2 linked regions of the Homo sapiens genome follow. The protein of the gene in region 2 interacts with the protein of the main gene of each other region in a pairwise test. Each region holds a gene or a part of one and is shown on either strand. Other genes may lie near its edges.

Region 1 (4,038 bases), on a different chromosome or scaffold from region 2:
ATGATCAGGTTTATCTTCACTGCTCCATTGCCAGGGTCCAAGCCTCCATCATCCATCACATGATTGGAGACAGTGACATTCTCAGGAATCTGCAATTCACTCTCTACCCAACAGAGTGGTTTGTTTGAAGCATTAGTCTGGGATGGGTGTGGCGGCTCACACCTGTCATTCCAGCACTTTGGGAGACTGAGGTGGGTGATCACTTGAGGTCAGGAGTTTGAGACCATCTTGGCCAATAGGGTGAAACCCTGTCTTTACTAAAAATATAAAAAAATGAGCAGGGCGTGGTGGCGGGCGCCTGTAATCCCAACTACTCAGGAGGCTGTGGCAGGAGAATTGCTTGAACTCGGGAGGTGGAGGTTGCAGTCAGCCAAGATTGTGCCACTGCACTCCAGCCTGGATGATTGAGGGAGACTTTGTCTCAAAGAATAAAAATACTTAGTCTGGTTTTCACTCTCCTTACAATAGTTGCAATGAGAATAAAATCCAAATTTCTGAAAAGGCTGACAAAGCCATATGTTTATGATTTGGTTTCTGCCCAATCTCCATCTTCACCTCCTACACGTCCTCCATCTCACAACCTTGCCCTTCTTTCTCAAACACAACACTCTCTCCTATCCGCAGCCCTTGAAGTAGTTTCTTCTTCTTGGAATATTCCTCTCTTGTCTTTTAAGCCTTCCATTTCCTTTCAGCCGTTAGGGTCTTAGCACAAGAGTCACCACTTCAGAGAGGTCTCCTGTGGCCTCCCCTATCTAAAGAGGATTCCTTTTCAGTTAAACTCTATCATATTACCTGTTTATTTCAAAATCATAAAATGTGAGGCTTTATATACACATGCACGCACATACGGGCATATACACAGATATCCACGCATCCATACATACTCACACACACACAGCCTCCCCGAGGGCAAAGATCTTGTTCTTTGCTGAATTGCCAGCACTTAGAACAGTGACTGGCACGTGCTAGGTTCTCGGTGCCTGAACAAATAGACCATTGCCTTGTTCCCATTTTTCTGGTGAGGAAACTGAGGCACAGACAGGTTAAGCAACTTGCCCAAAGCGGCACAGTGGGGAAGCCAAGGAGCTGAGGGGTGAGCTCACTGTGTGAGGCCTGTCTCCTGGGGAGTCCCCACTCCAACCCCGCCCCTCCTGGGCTTGGCACGGACCTCCCAGCAGCATCTCCTGCAACAGGTTGTCAATCTTGGCCATGCCGAAGAGCTTGATGAACTGGATCTGCTCGATCATCTGCCAGGTGATGCTCTGCAAGGTGGGCAGCAGCAGCAGCAGCTCTCCAAAGCGGCCACGCGAGTCATACTGGCGGTCGTTGATGTAGTCCTCCAAGCTCACCTGCACCTGGGAACGCAGCCGCTTGATCTTCCCTGGATCGCTCAGCCCCTTGGCATCTACAATGGAAGAGGGTGGGCAAGGGAGGGCAGCAGGGTCCAGCTGGAGCATCTGGGGAGTCAAGACCCAGATGTCCCCTGACTTGTATCACACAAGGAGTCTTCAGCAGTGTGGGCACAAGGATTCAGGGACCTCAACAACCAGGGTACGCCAGCATGAATTATGATTTCCTAGACACAGGCAGAAAAAGATTTCTGCCACATTTCCTAAAGCACTAAACCAGAAGAGAGGGGAATAGGAGATGGAGGGCGGGACTTGAGGAATGCATCCAATAAGCACCTAGCAACCGCCTCATCTTACACACGGGGAAACCCAGACACAGTGCAAAGATAGGACTTGTCCTGGGTCGCACAGCCAGTTGTTGGCAGAGCCACAATGGGAACTTGGGGTTTTGGGCCACAGTTGAGGTCCCCTCATCCAGACCTCAGCAGTTGCTGCTTCTACTGTGTTAGAATAGGCTCCCCTTCCCTGGTTCCTGCTTCCTATCACCTTAGGGACTCAGGTTAGGTTTCACCTCCTCCAGGAAGTCTGCCTTCTACCCTCCTATATCTGTATCCTGTGTCCCTCCTGTTTCCAAATCTCTGCGGCCCCTCCATCACTGCTGACCACACAGGATGTAATTGTTGTGCCATCCAACTGTGAGTTTGGCAGGGGCACGCGTATGTCTTATTTGCCATTTTTATTTTATTTTATTTTATTTTGAGACTGAGTCTCCCTCTGACCCCCAGCCTGGAGTGCAGTGGCGTGATCTCGGCTCACCGCAACCTCTGCCTCCTGGGTTCAAGCGATTCTCCTGCCTCAGCCTCCCGAGTAGCTGGGATTACAGGCACACACCACCACACCCAGCTAATTTTTGTATTTTAGTAGAGACGGGGTTTCACCATGCTGGTCAGGCTCATCTCAAACTTCTGACCTCAAGTAATCTGCCTGCCTCAGCCTCCCAAAATGTTGGGATTACAGGCGTGAGCCACTGCACCCGGCCTTTGCCTTTTCAAACTCACCACCTAGCACCATGCATAGTCAATATTTATTGAATAGGGCCAGGCATGGTGGCTCATGCCTGTAAGCCCAGCACTGTCAGAGGCCGAGGCGGGGGGATCACTTGAGGTCAGGAGTTTGAGACCAGCCTGGTCAATATGGTGAAACCCCATCTCTACTGATAATACAAAAATTCACCTGGCGTGGTGACACATGCCTGTAATCCCAGCGACTCAGGAGGTGAGGTGGGAGAATCGCTTGAAACTGGGAGGTGGAGGTCGCAGTGAGCCAAGACGGTGCCACTGCACTCCAGCCTGGGTGACAGACTATATATATATATATTTTAAAAAATATATATTTATATATAAATATATATTTATTGATAACTATATGTATATTTTTTGTTAGATGGCTGGATGAATGAATGAAAAAAAAATCAGTGAATAAATTCTAGATCCTTAGCCTAGAAAGGAACTTAAGCGGTCATACAATATTTAATCTCAACCTTCATGGAGGTAATGCATTTATTTCCTCTTTCATGGACAAAGGAAGTGGCAGAAAGAACATTCACCCACATTTCTAGTGGGCTGTCTCCACTGAATCATGCTTATTCATTAGTTCATTCAGGCCACACATGTTTATTGAGCACCTCCTGCATGCCAGGCCTTGAACTAGGTCCCCCGCCCCTTCAAATTGCTGGAGGCTGCTGCCTCTGACTCAGCATCAGTGATCCTTCCCATTTTGCAGAACAATTCTGCCAGTCCAGCCTCGTGTTGAGCACTACAGAGGATACAGGCTGGGCCAGGCTGTGGAGGGAACTAGAACTAGAAATCTCACCCTCTGGTAAGTGTGGGATAGCAGGTGGTAGGTAAGAATGTGGGCTTGAGAGAGAGAAATTGGGATTGACAGGTGGTCTGAAGTTCAAATCCAAGCTCTGCCATTTTCCGGTTGTGTGACCTTGAGCAAGTTAATCATGCCTCAGTTTCCTTATCTGTAAAATGGAGATAATAATAATTCCTACTTCACAGGTACCATGTTGGTAAGTAAGACAATCCACATAAAGTGTTTAAAAACAGCTCTTTAGGGAGCATTCAATACATGGGGCTCATCTTCCACTTCATCACTCTCTCTATATATAATATATATCACTATATATATATAAAATATATATCACTATATATAATATATATTATACGTAATATATCACTATATACTATATATATCACTATATATTATATATATATAATATATATTATATATATATACACATATATGTATTTTTTTGAGATGAAGTTTTGCTCTTGTTGCCCAGGCTGGAGTGCAATGGCATGATCTTGGCTCACTGCAACCCCCGCCTCCCAGGTTCAAGCGATTCTCCTGCCTCAGCCTCCTGAGTAGCTGGGATTACAGGCACGGACCACCACACACAACTGATTTTTGTATTTTTAGTAGAGACGGGGTTTCACCATGTTGGCCAGGCTGGTCTTGAACTCCTGACGTCAAGTAATCTGCCTGCCTCAGTCTCCCAAAGTGCTGGGATTACAGGCGTGAGCCACCACACCCAGCCTTTTCATTACTATTATTACTAGAGGTAATCTATTTGCAGCGTGAAGGACAGTGCCTGGCACACAGTAGGTCCCCTCTAACATGTAAG
Region 2 (3,500 bases):
TTGCACTGTCTTCACATATACACTGCTTCTTTCAGGGGAGTCTGTAAACTACTCTTTCTTTCATAAATTTATGATTGTTCCTGGAGGACATCCTATTTTTTAAAGTCCCCAAATCATTAGCTTTATGACAGTGTGTGTGTTTGTGTGTGTGTGTGTGTGTGTGTGTGTGTGTATGCGCACATGTGCGCATGGGAAGGGGGGGTGTTACTTACTAAATGTCTTCATGTACATAGAAAAAGAAATTTCATAAATTTACAGAAACTGCATTACCCTTGCCCTTGACATCTGATAAAAGAGATTGTTAACTTTTAAAAGGAGAGAGCAGGATTTTCAAGAATGCTTTCAACTGTCTATACAGTCACTGTAGTGTTCCTAGTAAATTCAACAGATGTCGTGAGAATGTAGTTATTTATTAAAATCTCATGTCTTACATAATGACAGCCATGAGGTTAAATATTTACATTGCTTTATAAAAGTTCCCCTCTTGCTTTAGTGTTTCTGTTTTGCTTTTTTTTTGTTGTTTTAAATTTTTTTAAATGATATTCACCCACATCCCTAGTACAGTGACAAAGATTCTGCAAACATAAAACACTTCTTTAATTAAATAATACTCGGAGGCACAAAGCAAACTTCAGGAATATGTGGGTGAACGTTTACTTAAATAATTACTACATTCTAACATCTTCCATGTGTTTTACCATTTAATGTGAAACGTCCTCATTAAACAGCCAGAGATACAGTAAGAATTAAATGTTTTGTTGCAAATAGAACATTCTTTTCACAAAACATAACAAATGTCTAAAATAGGTTCTTAAATCTAGATAGGAAAAGGTAAGCTTTCCACTTCACACGCATATATATATATGTATATTTTTACATGTGTGTATATGTGTGTATGTGATTTTATGTTCACACATCTGCGCACACATATATAGCACATGGTATGAAATATTGCTTCTATACTACTTTTCATTAGGCTAAGAAAACACAAGATTTGCACCACAGTTACAAAAAATTGGCTTCTACAAGAATTTTCAAAACTCGAATGCTGCTCAAACAATTGAGGAAAAAATAATTTGCGGTATCAAACTGTTCTAAAAATTCTCTTCTTCAAAAACGTATTCTCCCGCTTTGTTTTAAAAAGACACAAAATATGCATAGCTATCAACGTTATGTCAAACAGCCAGAAAAAAAATCTAGTGTTTATTGCAGCTGTAGTAATTGGAAATAAAGTCAAAAAGATGAAATCGAAAGCCACAGAAGGCACAAGAACAATTGTACTTGTTGGGAAAAAACTGGTATTTTGAAGGATTTTTTAAAATCCCCCCCGCTGGTGCATTTTAGGTCTAGGCACAGACTATAACCTCAAGCGTATACGCAAAAATAATTTAGGGTTAGCAGAAAATAAGTGGTAGTGTGGTTTTTCAACATGGACTTTAGACTTTTTTTTTTCTTTTCCTATGTAAACTGTCCCTCATCCTTCACCATCCCACCATAGAAAGTTAACTTTCTCCCAAGTAGCCAATTTTCACTTGGTGAGAGTTGAGCTAAGATTTGAAAGATGGTGATTAAAAAAAAAAAATCAAACTGTTAAATAGGAATTTGGAGAGACAGGCTTTTGTCATTTTCCAATGCACTTGGGAGGCACAAGATTTCGATTGTAAAAGGGAAAACCACCGGAAAGCATAGTGATAAAGTTCTATTTTCAGAACAAAGAGGTGAGTTTATCCTCATGCTGCAATTTCTACTCTGAAATAATTTCTATGCCTCAGTGAACATTGAGAGGATATTATCAGTAGATAAGGGCATCAACATTTGGTTGTGAACACACACTTTTGCTTAATTTGTCTATTTAAATTAGAAAGGGAGGGGAAAATAATACTAAAAAAATCCAAATAAGTCTGGAATCAATATTGAACTCGCCCCAGATCAAAAAGATATCTAGCAATCTGTCTACATAGGTGAATACACTACAGCTTTGCCTTTTACCTTGCAAATGGCAACACAAAGTTGATATGAATTACACGGAACAGCAAAAACCCAGTGGCACACTGACACGAACAAGGACTGCCATCCTCTTTTAAAACAAAGCCAGTCAGAAAACTGTGACTACAAGTTGGGATTACTTCCCTATTTTGTGCTGATGGAATTTTTCCTTCCCACTTTATTCCAATGTCATGATTATCCAAACTGCTTTTTTTTAAAGCAAGTGAGAAAAATAACAAATTGGATCTAATGACTCTGTGCATTAGTAGAGTGTGAGCTGGGAGATGTGTGAGGCCGCGGGTGCAGAGTGAGGTGGCTGGTGCCCCCGCCCGTGTGGCTGCACCCTCTGTCTACACTGCGAGGCCCTGTTAGTCCCCTGGATGGTGCAGGGCATCATAGGACTGCACCATTTAATTTAAAGTCAGCAGGTTTTAAGGCTTTGTGCTGACAATAATTGAGTTCATACATTCCTGTCCATCAGCAGAATTTATAAATGACGTTAAATTACAGCGATCGGGTCAGCTAGTCAGTCACATGGGTCAAGACCTGTATTCTCCAAAGTCAAATGTAATTCTTATTAAAGTTGAATTAAAAAATGGCATTTATGTTCTATATGTTCTAAATACCAGATTTGTTACTGTGTCATTTTAGGAGGTGTATATCAAATTACCTAAGGGGAAGGAAGGGTCTGGAAAACAGTTTTAGGATGAACAATGAATTCTTACTGCATCTGGACACAAAAACCCACCTAAGAAAAAAAGTGTGAATGCCATACGAGTTTTTTCAATGCAAGTAGGGAACACTGTACATCATTGAAAAACAGGGAAAAATAAAAGGGAAAAAAGAGGAGAACCATGGAAGAAAGCATAAAATAGCAGCTAGCTTTCTTATGTGTGCTGGAATTGTGTCTTTTGGGTTAACCCCAAATTTTCCTATGCTATACACTCTTCTCACATTTTGGTCAATACTAGCTTCTGAATTGGAAGAGGCATTATCAATTGCTTTAAAATGTTATACCTAAAATGAAGAAACACTGAGTTAGACTGTCACCACTTTGCATACCCATCAGGATAGTGTGGAATTGCTTGTGAAAATATATGTGTTCCTCTTAGGAGATGACGATCAAGTCAGCTAATGGCTGTCAACAAACTTCTAGTGTAGGCAAGAATTTTATGGCCAAGTTGGGCTTTCCTTTATTCCTTACTGGAAGGAAGTATTCAGAAAATAGTATTTTAGGGGAAAAAATTGTTAAGTAAACAGAATCCTTTTAAGCATATAAACAAAGTTGAGCAGCGTAAATTGGAAACTTAGTGCCTTTTAGTATCTGAAGCAAAAATGATAACAAGTTATAGGATTTTTCTTTATGAAGAATGATGTAAGCTCACTTATGAAGAAGAACCTATTTTCAAGTTTAGAGAGGTGGCTACAAGACCAGGTATGAATTTCTAGTCTCATCTTGAGAGAGCTGGTTTTGTGCAAAATTGCTTTGCCTCCAGAAGAAACTGGTACGACTT

Evidence for each region.
Region 1: the proteins of PROX1 (region 2) and HNF4A interact in binary tests that used the Homo sapiens proteins (3 or more experiments, as listed by UniProt).

Annotation. Positions count from the first base shown.
Region 1 is NC_000020.11:44,421,385-44,425,422, reverse strand, and holds part of HNF4A (hepatocyte nuclear factor 4-alpha), read right to left. Parts: intron 1,406-4,038; coding exon 1,169-1,405; coding exon of another isoform or gene 1,044-1,168; exon of another isoform or gene 780-1,043; intron 1-779. UniProt on the Homo sapiens protein: Transcriptional regulator which controls the expression of hepatic genes during the transition of endodermal cells to hepatic progenitor cells, facilitating the recruitment of RNA pol II to the promoters of target genes. Activates the transcription of CYP2C38.
Region 2 is NC_000001.11:214,036,473-214,039,972, reverse strand, and holds part of PROX1 (prospero homeobox protein 1), read right to left. Parts: 3' UTR 1-3,500. UniProt on the Homo sapiens protein: Transcription factor involved in developmental processes such as cell fate determination, gene transcriptional regulation and progenitor cell regulation in a number of organs.